Homo sapiens: one gene and its partner. The protein of the gene in region 1 purifies or fractionates together with the protein of each later gene. This does not show direct contact. Each region holds a gene or a part of one and is shown in the gene's direction. Other genes may lie near its edges.

Evidence for each region. The genes of interacting proteins can lie anywhere in the genome.
Region 2: the proteins of HES6 (region 1) and TLE4 purify together in Homo sapiens (co-immunoprecipitation; 2 studies listed by BioGRID and IntAct, with this or other methods). This does not show direct contact.

What each region holds. Positions count from the first base shown.
Region 1 is NC_000002.12:238,237,329-238,244,971, reverse strand, and holds HES6 (transcription cofactor HES-6), read left to right. Parts: upstream 1-4,933; 5' UTR 4,934-5,066; coding exon 5,067-5,147; intron 5,148-5,224; coding exon 5,225-5,311; intron 5,312-5,403; coding exon 5,404-5,485; intron 5,486-5,720; coding exon 5,721-6,145; 3' UTR 6,146-6,705; downstream 6,706-7,643. UniProt on the Homo sapiens protein: Does not bind DNA itself but suppresses both HES1-mediated N box-dependent transcriptional repression and binding of HES1 to E box sequences.
Region 2 is NC_000009.12:79,574,545-79,582,134, forward strand, and holds part of TLE4 (transducin-like enhancer protein 4), read left to right. Parts: intron 1-328; coding exon 329-392; intron 393-1,588; coding exon 1,589-1,633; intron 1,634-7,590. UniProt on the Homo sapiens protein: Transcriptional corepressor that binds to a number of transcription factors. Inhibits the transcriptional activation mediated by PAX5, and by CTNNB1 and TCF family members in Wnt signaling.

The sequences.
Region 1 (7,643 bases):
AGGTTCAAGCGATTCTCCTGCCTCAGCCTCCTGAGTAGCTGGGACCACAGGCGACTGCCACCACACCCAGCTAATTTTTTGTATTTTTAGTAGAGACAGGGTTTCACCATGTTGGCCAGGCTGGTCTCGAACTCCTGACCTCAAGCGATCCACCCACCTCGGCCTCCCAAAGTGCTGGGATTACAGGCGTGAGCCACCACGCCCAACTGGGACCAGGGTTTTCTGTTTTTTGATGGAGGTGAAATCTCTTTGTAATCCACTAGGTTTTCATCGTAAAACCATCTTATGCCTGACTATTAAACCTATTCTTCATAAACACAAGAACACTTTAATTTTTCGTTAATTTACAAAGTAACATCAGCTGCCTATGCCTATGATAAGGTAGCAGTCTGCATTCTTATGGCCATTAGATGTTACAAACTCCTTGCCTCTAAAGTCAGATCATGAAGGGATAGGTGTTCATCTAAGGTTACAGTTATGTTACCGAAACACAAAACTGCCAAAATCTTACTCTGCTGTTATGAATGTTTACCATCAGCATTATTTTATCATTTAATATGTGCTCACTGATTGTTAACTGTAGCTTCAGCGCGTGCCAAGCAGTTGACTTAATAGGATCATCTTGTGAATTTGTTTACGTGATGCCAAGCATCAAGTCATGTTTTCTTTAGTGTGTGTGCTTACACAGGTGTTAAACAGTTTTTCTCTATTTTAAACTGAGCCTTCTTTTTAATATATTCCCGAAGAGATATGTAAATAAGCTCTCAGAGTTTCTGTGATGATTTGTTGAGCCTTGCTGGACAAGTGGTTTGTTTGTGTGCAAACCAAACTTTCTTTACCCAGTGCAATAGATTTGTTTGACTGCTTGTGTCTTTTTATGACCTGTTTGCCTTTTAGAAAATTGGTAAATAAAGCAAGTATATTTTTATTTTTACTTGTATGTATTTTTCACATAGCACAAAGGAAAACCTGAATAGAGAGCAAAGATTATTTAAAAAAAATTTTTTTAAAGAACTCCAGGAATTCTGCATTAAAGAATCTTACATCCCAAAGGCCTCCTGGCGGTCAGCTCCCTTATAGCGTTTGCTTCTTGCTGGCTCCCTTTCTTCCTGTGCGTGTCACACACACACCCTCCTTCAGGCTGCAGGAGTGAACTCACGTAATGCAAACCTAATCGTGTCATGCCCCACAGTCTTTTCACTTTTAGTTGGAGGGGTGCAGCTGTCTGGCTCAGCCCCAGAGTGCCCCCAGCTCTGCCTCCACGCACCTCTGTCTTCCCTGCATCCCTGCCCTGGGTTACCTGGCCTTTCCAGGCTGGCTGCCTGTCTTCTGGTCATCGGGCTAGGTAGGGCTAAAGGTGGGGCGGTCAGGAGGCTCCACCAGGAAGGTCACATGTCTCCATTGCGAATGATATGGGCAGGGCGGCATAGTCCCCTGACCCCAGCCCTTCTTTCACAGTGATGAATGAAGCCTTGTGAGGCCAAAACTGTGGAAGCCCGAAGAGTTGCTCCCCATCCCTCCCACTCTTCAAACCATGACCCTGGGGGTGGGAGCAGAGAGCTGAATGGATCCTGAACCCAATGCCCAGCCTCTGAGAAGCTCCCTGAGCAGAAGGGAGGGGCTCTCCTCTGCCTGCTAGCCTGGCTGCCTAACGCCAAGTGCTGATGGGATAAAAGGCAAAGTCCTCCCTAGCGAGCACAGAGGCCTCTGCAAACTGCTCTAAATGGCCAGATATGGTTGTTTCACTGAACCTGAGTGCTTTTGGAAGACTCTTAATTGTATTTTTATTTACCATATAACCCCAAGGGATTTATTTCCAAACCAAACGGAGATTCTCTGAGTCTCCTGGGCAGATTGCCCACAAGGGGCCTGGACAGTCTACAGGCCGCAGCTGCCTTTGTTCCCCCAGGGATTTATGGCCTGCCACCCCCACTGCTAACTGGTATCCCCGCAGCAACCACCACCCTGCCCAGCCTCTGCTGGCCTCTGTTCCTGGCTCTAGGGGGATCAAAGGACTCAAATGCTCAGGAAGTCCATACTCAGGCAAACTTTGAAGGCAGGACTGGCCCAAGGGACAAATGGCAGGAAGTGTTGGCTAGGGGAGGCTGCTGTGAAGGAGGGAGGGAGGGCTTGGTGACCTCAAGATAGGCCAGGCTTCTGGGACAAAAAGGCCATGCCAGCTGGCCAGTGCACCGCTAAAGGGAATTGAAGCTGACCTTGCAGAGGGGACCTTGGGCAACTTCCAGTCCAACCAAGAAGGATTTTGCTGATGTACAGCCTTCTCTACTTAAGCTCTTTTCCCTGTAGGATCCTTGGTCACACCGAGGCATATCCCAGTGCTTAATTTCTCCCTCCCTCAACTCTAGACAGCATTCCTCAACCCTCCACCCACTCCACTGTCAGACAAGGCTTTTGAGGTCCCTAGTCCTCCCTTTAGCCTCCTCTCTCATAACTCCTATCACCTGTCCTTTTGTTTTTACAAGGTCAACTTTATATCATGTCCCATAACCATAAACAATCCTTCCTTGCCTTCTGTATAGATTAATTCTAAATGTTAAAACCCTATGAACACTGTTACATTGTTGTGACTGTGAAAATTGTCTCCTGAGCCAAGTAATGTGCTAAGATTACATTTCTTGGGAAGCTTTTTGTTTTTCCTAGAGTTCCTAGTTGCTTTTCTTTCTTTTTTTTTGCTTGCACCATTTGCCTTTATCATGTCCTCCTTGCCCCTCAAATCCAGTTCCCCATCCAATCAAGTGTTCAGTCAGGCTTTACCCAAAGTCCTCTTTTGGGGCCCTGATCATCCTGTTGCAATATAAATTGCCTAACATAAAGCAGATGTTTTAGGATGAGAGCATCCTAAAACATCTACTTGGCCTTGTTCGTTTGGATAATGAGAGGAGTGTAAATCAGTTTGCAAACTTGGGAGTACAGGAAATATCAGTGAGTTTATTTTTCCCTATCACAGTTTCTCGAAGTAGTGGAAATGTCATTGTAGCCACTTGGGGGAGTGGAGGTTCTCCTTCCCTGGGGTGATGTCTAAGTGGTGAAGGAGAGTAAAGTCACAGGCTAATAATCCACTTCCTTGGGATCCACCACTCCAGCCCCACCCTGCCAGCCCCACTACTGGGCAGGTGGGGAGTGTGTGAAGTAAAGCGGTAGTTTCACACCCAGGTGAGTGATGCTGGGCTGGGGGAAGTCTCAGGACCCTGCTCATAGAGCAACCAAGAGCCAGAGCAGGGACAGTTGGGAGCCAGCGGGAGGGGGTCCCAGGTAATTACAGAGGTCAGTGAGGTGACTTTGGGAGCTTTCAAACCTCTCACCAAACTCACCCAGCAGGAAGCCTGCAGGGGTCCCTCTGGTGGAGAGGCGCAAGTAAAGGGGCCATGGGAGGCCTGTCAGACCTCTCTAGGGGCAGTGGGGCGGTCGGTCTGCAGCCTAGTCCTGCCGCTCCGCTCAGCTGCTGCGGTCCCGTGATGTTCCCCTCCCACGCGGCCTTCCAGCCCATCCTGCCAGGGCCACCCCTCACCTTCCCTACCTACCAGCGCTTCTGTGAGGCCAGGCTCTGCTGGGGGTGCGGGGAGGTGGACAGGGGGTCCTAGGTCAGACTGTGCCCTTGTCCAGGGACGCTTATAGCCTGGAGGGGCTCAGAACAGACCCTGACGATCCCAGCCCGGGTGAGTAGTGGGGACTGAGGAAGGCAGGTGCTGTGCGGGGCAGGCTGGTAGTCGGCCGGCTGGGGTCCGAGAAGGCGTCTCCCGTTCCGGCTCCTCCACACAGCGTCTGGACTGACGCCGGGGCAGGAGCCGGGCAGGGGTCCCCAGGACGCTGCCCGAGGGCGCGGCCCCACCGCCCACGCACCCCGCCCGCGGCCAAGAGGAACCCAGCAGATGGGCGGCCCGCCGCGATGGGGGAGTCGCGGGCGTCTGGCCGGGACAAGCGCCCGCCGCCTGCCCGCCGGACAAAGGGTGCGAGACAAAGGCGCGGCCAACACCTGTCGCTCTTGGCGCGGCCGCCGCTTTTCTCGCTTTTCTCCGCCGAAGCGGCCGCAGCTGCCAACTGTCACGGGCATCAAGTTACAGGACCAGACGGCAGCTTCGGCGGGCCTGGGAGGCGGGGCGCGGAGGACGAGGAGGGGAGGAGGGAGGCGGGCGGGGGGCAGTGGAAGGGAGGGAGGGGGCCCCGGGGGCCAAAGGGGACTAGAGGGAGATGGGGGAGCTCAGAGGGGGGCGGGGCTGGTGACCCGCAGAGCCCAGGGGGAGAGCGGCGCGGGCGGGAGCACCCGGGACCCCGCCCCACTAGGACTCCAGTGCTGGCGGAGGGCGGCGTCGGGGGTCCGGCCCGGCGTCTGGACGAGTCCGGAAGAAACTCAGGGGCCGCCCCGCCACCGCTGCCCAATGGACCCTGCCTCCCCGGGGCTTGGCAGCCACCCCAGCCGGGACCTGAAACCCCTCTAGGTCCAGAGACCGCGGACTTGACTGTGGCTCTGCACACCAGGGACGCATCTCCTGGGGCCAGTGGCCCCAGCGCTCAACTCTGGAGGCGCCATCGGCGAAGGAGGGAAATGAATGAATTAATGGGTGAATGAATGAGTGGACGGACGGACGGACGGACGGGTGGACGCCTGCTCGCACGCGCGGCAGATCAGTGGTCCTAGAGCAGCAGACGGAGAGAAACAAGCGCGGGCAGGGCCGCAGCTACCCGGGGTCGCCGCCCCGGTGCCGCCCCCGCGGGGGTCTAGGGAAGGCCGGGCTGGGGGCCCCGCCTAGCTCAGCCAGCTGCCCGACCGCCAGAGCCGCTGGGCCGGACAAAGCGCGCTGCCCCGATTGGCTGCAGCGCGCCTCGCGGTCGGCCGCCCCGGGCCCGCGCGGCCAATCGGCGCATTGAGATGCAAATAAGCGGCTATAAAAGGGGCGGGACCGCGGCGGGCCGGAAGCCGCGAGGAGCGCGGACGGCTGGGCTGCTGCTGGGCGGCCGCGGGGCAGCGGAGGGCGCCGGCACTCCGGTCCCCGCCGCTCCCCGTCCCCGCTGCTCCTAGCCCCTGCCGCGTCCCCGGCGGAGCGGGCATGGCGCCACCCGCGGCGCCTGGCCGGGACCGTGTGGGCCGTGAGGATGAGGACGGCTGGGAGACGCGAGGGGACCGCAAGGTGCGGGCCGGGGCCATGGGCGAGCAAGCGGGCGGGAGGCCGTGCGGGGCTGGGATTCAGTGCCCCGCTCCCCGCAGGCCCGGAAGCCCCTGGTGGAGAAGAAGCGGCGCGCGCGGATCAACGAGAGCCTGCAGGAGCTGCGGCTGCTGCTGGCGGGCGCCGAGGTGCGGCGGCCGGGCAGGCGCCGTGGGGCTGCGGGGCGGGCGGGCGGGTCCGGGAGCGCGCTGCCGGCTCACCGCCCTTCCCGCCCGCGCAGGTGCAGGCCAAGCTGGAGAACGCCGAAGTGCTGGAGCTGACGGTGCGGCGGGTCCAGGGTGTGCTGCGGGGCCGGGCGCGCGGTGAGTGGCGGCGGGGCGGGCGGGGGCGCCGGCCGCGGGCGCCTGTAACCCCTGCCAGACGGAGGACTTCCCTCCCGGCGCCCCTGTCCTGTCGGCGGCGAGGGCTCCCACCGGAGCAGGGTGCGCCCCCGCGTCTCCTGGGTGAGCCGCGTCCCCGCGGGCCGGGTGGGCTGGGCCACGCAGTCGCCGCTCACCGCGCGGGACGCGGCTCTCTCCCTCCCACCCTCGGGCCCAGAGCGCGAGCAGCTGCAGGCGGAAGCGAGCGAGCGCTTCGCTGCCGGCTACATCCAGTGCATGCACGAGGTGCACACGTTCGTGTCCACGTGCCAGGCCATCGACGCTACCGTCGCTGCCGAGCTCCTGAACCATCTGCTCGAGTCCATGCCGCTGCGTGAGGGCAGCAGCTTCCAGGATCTGCTGGGGGACGCCCTGGCGGGGCCACCTAGAGCCCCTGGACGGAGTGGCTGGCCTGCGGGGGGCGCTCCGGGATCCCCAATACCCAGCCCCCCGGGTCCTGGGGACGACCTGTGCTCCGACCTGGAGGAGGCCCCTGAGGCTGAACTGAGTCAGGCTCCTGCTGAGGGGCCCGACTTGGTGCCCGCAGCCCTGGGCAGCCTGACCACAGCCCAAATTGCCCGGAGTGTCTGGAGGCCTTGGTGACCAATGCCAGCCAGAGTCCTGCGGGGGTGGGCCCGGCCCTCCCTGGATCTCCTCCCTCCTCCCAGGGGTTCAGATGTGGTGGGGTAGGGCCCTGGAAGTCTCCCAGGTCTTCCCTCCCTCCTCTGATGGATGGCTTGCAGGGCAGCCCCTGGTAACCAGCCCAGTCAGGCCCCAGCCCCGTTTCTTAAGAAACTTTTAGGGACCCTGCAGCTCTGGAGTGGGTGGAGGGAGGGAGCTACGGGCAGGAGGAAGAATTTTGTAGAGCTGCCAGCGCTCTCCCAGGTTCACCCACCCAGGCTTCACCAGCCCTGTGCGGGCTCTGGGGGCAGAGGTGGCAGAAATGGTGCTGGGCACTAGTGTTCCAGGCAGCCCTGGGCTAAACAAAAGCTTGAACTTGCCACTTCAGCGGGGAGATGAGAGGCAGGTGCACTGAGCTGCACTGCCCAGAGCTGTGATGCTCTGTACATCTTGTTTGTAGCACACTTGAGTTTGTGTATTCCATTGACATCAAATGTGACAATTTTACTAAATAAAGAATTTTGGAGTTAGTTACCCTTGAAGTATTGTTGAGTGATGTGTCATTACTGTGTCAAGATATGTAAATGCTAAACTAAGCACATTTCCCCTGCATCTGAGGCTGGTGAATGTCCTTTAAAACCTCACCCTTTCTCAGCAGAGTGAGCAGTGTGATGGTGGTGGGGATGCACTCCGTGGCTGTCTCTGCAGCAGGCAGTGCTTCTGCCCCCCATGCTAGGCAGGTCCTCAGACCCAGCCTGTTCTTGGGCATTGTGTGTCCTGGAGAAGGAGTTTGTTTGCATGAGGCTTGTCTCCAGGGTAACTCAGCAATAGGGAGATGACCTGTCTCTGTGCCATTTTCTTGTTCATGAGCTTCAGGAATAATAAAATAATGCCTAATTGCTACCTATTTGGTTTGAAAGTATCTTTTAAAGACCTGTTTTAGGACCCACGAGCATGACATAGACATGAGTCTACTTGTGTGAGGTTGTTGCTTATCTTGACTGAAGAAGGAACTTCCCCACTGCTGCCATTGACTTCAGGGTCAAGGAGACCCACCCAGTTTGTGGCCTGAAATGAAAGCGCCAAGGCCCCAGGGGGCTTGAGCGTTAGGTCAAACTGGGTCCAGGAGGTCAGAACCCTCAGGGATGGAGGGTGGCAGGATGGGCAGCTGGGGTGCGGGAGCCTGCCCTCTTGGGCTCGGCCAGACCTGCAGATAGCACGTGGTCAGCCGGCTGAAGTCACCGCCACAGTTAGCCTAGCCCCCTCCTCCTGCTCCAGGACCCCAAAGCAGCAGCTTCTCACTGTGGGTTGGCAGTCCCCAGGCTAGGGCCAAGGTGTGACAACTTAGGATTGACGTCGGGGTCTCCTCTCTGGACATGTGCTTTTGCCTTAAGAACACCTTTCCCAGCAGCCCCTTTACAAAAGCCCCCAAGCAGGTCCTGGCCACCAGGGGTGTTTCAAAGTTTGAGGTTCACTCTGG
Region 2 (7,590 bases), on another chromosome or scaffold:
TTGAAGTTTATTTTCGTGTTTGTTTTATTAAGTGAATATTCAATTCTGGAGGAAGTTCCTGAATTAAACTGATTAGAGGATTTGTTTCCTTAAAACTTAATTAAAAAAAAAATCCTAAAAACAAAAAACCACATATATGATCCTTATTGAAGGGGCAAGTCCAGACTGGTTCCAATCACCCCTTTCCCCTTCCCTTTCCATAATGATGGGGGTATTTATTTAAGATTGTTGATTTAGTTGTTTGTAGGTGAGATTTAGAATATGCGTTTAAGAGTTGAAGGATGTAAGTTAAGATCATTGTACTTAGAGTATCTTATGTCTTGAACAGTCTGAAGCTGGAATGTGAGAAACTCGCCAGTGAGAAGACAGAGATGCAGCGGCATTATGTCATGGTAAGAAAACCATGTCACAGATTCAAAGTGCCTATTAGTTTGGAATACCAAAAACAAGAATATGTTTAAATTGCTGGGGGCTGCAAGATAGATCACAGTCACCCTGCCAGTGCAGTTGAAGTTGTGGGAATATGTCTATTAGCAACCTGTAATTCTAGGCTGTTATAACTTGCCTTTGACAACTGGCTTTGATTGGAATTTTCAGAAAGTTCAGCCACATGGGGTATAATTTTCTGTGCTTTGTTTTTACAGATCGAAAAAAAATAAAAACAAAACCTTGTTTGTTTTGTCACAAGCAAAAATGTTTTTGTGTTAGTGGCTTTCTTTGTTGTTTTATTGCTCTTGCTCCAAACAATTTTTGCCAGTTTTTCTGTATGCTGTTAACATTGTAAATGTCTTATTATTAAAGACATTATTAAAAAATAATGTTTTATTTCTTTGAAAAGGAGTGATGGATAAGGAAAGACAGCAGACCATTTTTCAAATTTTTTTCTCTTTATGTTACTATTACATTAATATTTGTATGTTTTCAATTTCTGTAGTGTTATATTGGTTTGAGGAATGTTGTAGTCTCCTGTATAACTGATGTGTTCTGCCAGAATTTCTATGCCAGTTATACTACACGTTCAAAAAACCAGATCTGCTTTTACAGAAGTATTATGAAGCATATTTTTATGATTGTCCAAGAAAGCTCCAGAATAACCCACTCATTTATTTTTCTATCTAGCTTTTTTGCTTTGAATGTGTGAATATGAGCAGTACACTAACAAATCAGAAATCAAACTCTAAGTAGCATCACCTTTTCCAACCTTCCTTTCAAAACATCAGCGTTTGTATAAGGCATTCTTTGCTGTTAACTTGCCTGCTGTGCTTAGGAATTAAGAGTCCGTAGGATACCAAATTTTCATCAGACTTTTTTGATGCATCTGCTTGGGATGTATAAAGAAACTGGAGATGTTAAGAATGCTGTGTTTGAATTTAATTTTTCTTAGTTTTGTGTGTTTTCTCTTAGAATTTGTGTCTTAAGGTGGTTAAAGATAGTGATGGGCTCTTGATTTATTGGCATAGGTTATATGAAGATACTGGTTTAGGTGAGGCTTTTATGTTTGTTTCAGATTTACTTGGGGCATTTTGAACAAACTAGGGAGATTGTTTGATGAAAGTCATGCATTTAATTGCTTTTCCTTCTTTGACAGTATTATGAAATGTCCTATGGGTTGAATATAGAAATGCACAAGCAGGTAAGTTATTTCTTTATAACCATTTTAAATGACAGTAATACTGGGACACTATGAAAAGAAAATTGTATGTTTTGCAGTTTTATTCTGCAAGCCGTTGTGGCTACCTGTATTTAAAAGTCTGGGTAGTGAAGAAAATGCTGTTTTTTCATGTGTGGCTCCCCATCTTTCTTTCATATTATCCTAATTTTTATAATTTAAAAATGTTATTTTAAAAAGTCTGAATACATATTAAACTCTGTACACTTTCAAAAGCAGGATGCTAAATTTTAAAATCCTCTTGTTATTCTTCTGAAAGAGTTGCTTTATGTATTTTGGGCATTGCAAACTTGTCTTGTGAAAGAGCTTTTCTTGGAAAATATTAAACAGTAAAATTAAATTGTGTGGCGCCTTCGTTGGCTTGATGTGAAAGAATGGATAGAGGGTGAGCTGGGAGGATGAAAATGAAATCTGTGGAGCTACAAAAGAAATTGATGTAAAATCCTTGTACTGGTCCCCTGAGGCTACTTAGTTGGGTCTTACCAAGAACTATAACCGTTACTTCCAAAATTTGTACAGAGTAAATGAGCCTGATAGGAGGATGTGATAAGGTTCAACATTGGGTCTTGAAATCTAGCAATTAGTTCAGTAGCAAAAAAAAAAAAAAATGATTAGTCAGAAAGCACTGAGAGATACGACTCAAACAGTCTTCTTTTTGTGCAGGAGACTGAATAAAATGGTTTGGCTTAAATTTCCTAGACAGAAGAATAATAGCGGGTATATCTATCTATATATATATATACACACACACAAATATATATACATACATATATATATATAAATATTGTTTGGCGATAGTAATTCCTCTAGGAAGCATTTATTTTTAGTGATCTCCTAGTGGAAGCACTTCAGGTCTCATCAGCCATTTCAGAATAGGTGTGTATGTGTTTGTCTGCTGGGAAAAAGACAAGGGAAAACTTACTGCTTTTCATTTCCTATTTATGGTCAAGGTGGATGTCATTACTTTCTAAGTTGAGAAAATATGAAATGAGCACATACTATTAGGCCTTCACTATTTATGGATTCCTTTTTGGGTATAGTTATTTTCTACATGCTCAGAACATCCCAGATAGTAGATCTTTAAGAGATGGCTGTTAGACAATAAGGCAATCTGATGAATAGTATTGGAAAACAAAAAGTTGGAAAAAAATGAGACGTTGCTTACATTGAGGACTTTTAATTTCAGATACTGTTTTACTTTGTATGCTATTTGGTTATGTCAATATTAGCATTATAGTATAGTTTGAATGGCCTGTTGAAATTAAATTCTTATTTTGGCATCTTTGTCATTTCTGTTTAGATTAGTAATGTAAATATCTTCTGCTTAAACAAAATCTGTTCAATCTTGTGGATGGACTTCTCTTAGTTCTACCTTACAGGAATAAATTACATGAGAGATATTGTTTGTTAATTATCCCATTACATTTCCTTTGAGGTCTGGATCTTGTGTATGTCTCTTTTTTTGTCTGCACCCCACTCCCCAAAATTAATTAGTGTCTTTTTAAAGATTGGACCAGATGATTAATTTAGTCCCTTTATTTCTCCTTCTGTATCTTGTTTACCCTAACCACTTAGTTTCCAGGTCTCCTTGTACCATCTACATTTCTAAGAGGCACATAGCTTGTATTTGGCTGTATGTATTTCTTTTTCGAGGGGGTATGTGAAATCCCTTAATTTTACACATTTTATACTGCTATAATTCTGTCATCTTCTTGTCCAGCTAGCCTCAAATGCCATCCATTTAAAATTGAGAACAGTACATTTTCCCTTTTTTTCGTTTCCTTTTAAATTCAATCATATCAAGAATCCTGAGGGCAGTTTATCACATTATGAAATACAGACAGCCCTGCAAACCACCTACTTATTATATTTTCTTTCTTTCTCCCCCTTAAGCATAGAGGCATATCTGTCTTTATTTGTTTTCCTAGGCAGACAGCCTTAGTTCCTCTTAGCCTCTCTTCCAGATGTACTCGCTGGATACCCTTGTAATGGAAAGCAGCAATAATGCAGGGAAGTTGCCCTGCGGCATAATTGGGCCTAGTTCTCAAGATCGGGTTAGGTTTATTCACTTATTAGATTTGTGTCTCGAAGGGTTCAACAGTAGGAGTCCCGGGAGCCCTTGGAAGTACCCTAGTAATTGGTGGCCCTGATATTTGAAACCTTTGTGTATTTTTTGGTTAACGTTCCTGTTCTTCTTGGCTGCTGCTAGCCACAGAATATTTATTTTTAGAGAAATTTTTCATTGGAACAGAAAATGGTGGTTGTGATGCAGTCATGGCTCTGTGACTTAGCAAACTGATAAAAAGATAAAAGTATGAAGCAAAGACAAACAGGGTGGAGGTCGGTGTTCTCCCTCCTACCCTTTCTATGTGGTGCTCATCATCAGTCCCCCTGTGTTGATTCTGATAGAGAACTATAAAATGAAACCTATGGGGAATTTGTCATTCTGAAATGAAAGCTAATGTAATTAGTACCAATTAAAGTACATTTAGTAAATTGGATTTAATCTTAATTAAGCCTGCATAATGTTGCCAATTTTTAACAATTATGTTTGAGAACATAATTAATTTAAATTTTGGTAACTGAGTAAATAGCATTAGTCTGGTAGAATTAGTGGATTTTTTTTTTTTTTAAAGGGGAACTTGGTGATATGACGTGGAATTGGAACATAAAATATGAATCTAAATTTCTGGTAATCTTTAGGATTGATAGAGCTAAGCAGATGAAGCAAAAAAAAAAAAAAGGATGAAGTATTCTAGGCTATAATGGGAATTAATGCTGTGCCATTGTCTCAAGTTCTAGCATAAAAGTGAAGATGACAAATAGGACATGGTTAGAAATGGCACATGTTTTAGTGTGACGTCTTCAAAATGGAATTTTTAAAAATGAAAGAACATAGGCCCTTATTCCCTAAGGATTTCCCTAAGTGTATGGTTTTTGTTTTTTGTTTTGTATGAGACAGCTGACCCAGGGTTTAGTTGTTAAGTTTTTTTGCTGATTGTTCTTCTTTGTAAATACAGTGTGGCTTCTAAATGGGTTGGTGGCTTCTAAATGGCACAGTGGGGTGATGCATGGAGTTGATAGCATTACTAAATGCTGCTTCTTCCCATCTTTCACCTGTAATGCTGTCATTAAAGAAGTCCTCACTGATGGACTCTGACAGCAGTGGTTACCATTCTAAAAAGTGAGTATTGGATATAGATTAGGAACAGTAGGTATGTGAATTCAACCTATAGGAACTATATGGAGATGAACATACCATCTTTTGAAAAGGGGAGCATGAGAACATCTATGACTTCCTTATAGTTAGTATTCTACAATGTGAAAGCTTCTTCATTTGAATTTTAGTAATCATCAGGAAATTTTAGAAATCTAAAACGCATAGAATCTGAAAGTAAGTACTGCACATTTATGTATGTTTTATGTGTGTATTTTTATATGTGTGTGTATTTGTGTGTGTGTGTGTGTATATATATATGTATATTTAATCAAAGCAAGAAAACTCCTGTTTCACTTAAAGCCATGTAAATTTTATTACGAGACTTGGGCCACAACCATTTGAGTGCTGCTAAAATATTAATTGAATAGAAATGAAAGGGCCTTGCCAACTGATAGGATATCATAATCATAGCCTCTTTGGTCGATGGTAAATGATGATAAATGACATTAGGAACCTTTTAGCAAACTGTAATAACTACAAGGAGGGAAGCAGTATGGATTTGCATTGTATCTGATACCCTCTAGTACCAAGTGGATTGCCAATACTGCTTGTTTAGCATTTTCTAAGGGCAATAAGATATTGATTTCTGACTTACAAGGAACAGCTCTATTTTCACCATTGAAAAGTATTGCAGGTTGTTAAGAAGAAATTGACTTGAAGAGGCCGACTGCTGCCCATCATGGAGCAAATAAAGCAAAACTGCCGAAGCATGGTGGAGCAGCGAGACGGGCCCTCAGCAATTTGTTGCTATTAATTTACCATGCTCGACAGCAAATCAATCGGCATCTACTTCATCTGCTGGAGAAAATGCTGTCCAGGGCAGATAAAAGGCTCGGCATGGTACAGAGAATAGACTGGATTGGCCAAAAGCAGGCTGCAGTTAATGTGTAAATAAGTGAAATCAAGGCCACTGTTGCAGAGGAAGCTGTTGTTAATTAGGTTGGTGTTTTTTAGTGAACTATTTTAGAAAGCAGCTAGGATTTGGAGAGTAAGAAGAGATTTATTGAGATTGAAGTAATACATGACTGGCATGACATTCTAGCCTTGAGTGTACTTGAATCTAGGGTGCAGTAAATTTATTTGGGGACACTGCTTGCTATGAAGTTTGTTGAAAGTTCATTTTAGACCACATTTCCCTTATGATAACTTTTTTTTTCAACCTTGCCAGTTTTTTGCACATCTTCTGTCTTATTGTGTACTCTTAGATTTAGAAGAGTAGATGGAGGAGTAGGTGTTTTAGTATGGAGGCACAAATGTGTCTGTTATATTCTTACCCAGTGCCTTTTTTTTTTTCAGAGATAGGTATAATTGAACTCTTGTATAATAATGAGAGTGAACTATCATGGAAGATGGGGTGTTCTAGCTGAAAGTAACTAATAAATGAAGATTTTGCTGACAGAACTTTATCTTGCTTCAGAAATATTAGGAAATAACAATCTAGAGGGCCTGAATAGTGGGTAGATACTACTAGATTATAAAATCTTAAAGATGACAAGTGAAATTTTGATGTCTGCATAAACTTCAGATACAATTATAAGACTATGTGTGTGGGGGTGGGAAGGGTTCTTGTGTTTTTGGTTTTCATTAAGGTTTAAAGCCACCTTTTCTAATTTAAGATTATTTACACGCTGATAATATTCCACAATTAATGTTAACGGAGTGAAGGGTATTGGTGGTGTTTTTTCCCCTTTACCTCTCATTTGGGCATTTTAAAATAGGAGGCCAACTTCATTTACTCCTGTTTAGTAAATCTAAATGAGTGTAGGTTTTAAATTAGATTTTTTCCCAAAACCCTTCAGAAGGTCTAGTATTAGGGCAGTTGATAAGTAAGTGGAAGCACCTTGGGCAGGACCCAGTGACCTGTCCTTTTACTTATTACAGCACCTGCACGGGAAGCAGATCTGGAGGATGAAATTTAACCTGTTACAGTGTGTGTATGTTTTAGGGTGTGTGTTTTCCGAATACTGTGGGGAGTTCCCTTTTTCCTTCTCCCATGATGGATTCTTTTGTCTTTCTAGAGATACCATAGGAGGATATCTGGATTTTTCACCTAAGGCAGTGATTCTTGAGTGAAATTGGAATTTCCTTTCAATAGAAGTAAACATTTATTATATATCTGGCTTGCGCTTACCACTGGTCTGGGCACACTGCCAAAATTCTTATCGTTAGTTCTCATAATGATCCTAAGACAGGGATTATATCCAATCAAAAGTTGATTAAACAGGGTCAGCTCTGCACAAGGTGATACAGCTAATAGTTGGTGGATTCAGGACTTCAAATAAATTTATGTGGGAGGATATCTCCTGGGAGATGGGTTTGCTATGGGTTAGAGATTCAGGCCCCAGTTCATTCCTGAAATAGAGAGTCCCTGAACTTTAGGCTCATACGCAGAACCTCTTGAGTTGGGGGATTCTCTGCAACTGCCTAGAGTCCATGGATGGCTCAGCCTGCCCTCTGCTTGCAGACTGCTTTCAGTGGGTGAGAGGGTGAGGTTGCTTTCACTCGGAATCTCCCACATGTGGGCTAGGGAAGCTGCTTGCTTATCAAGATGGAATTTGCTTCCTCCCTAGGCAACCTATTTCTCATTTGTTTACAAACTTGTTCTTCTCTTTAACTTTTATCTTTTCCTGTGGCTTATGAGAGTGCCTACAGACAAGGGGCTGTTTGTTAATCACCATCTTGTGGGCTTTTGAAGGGGGAA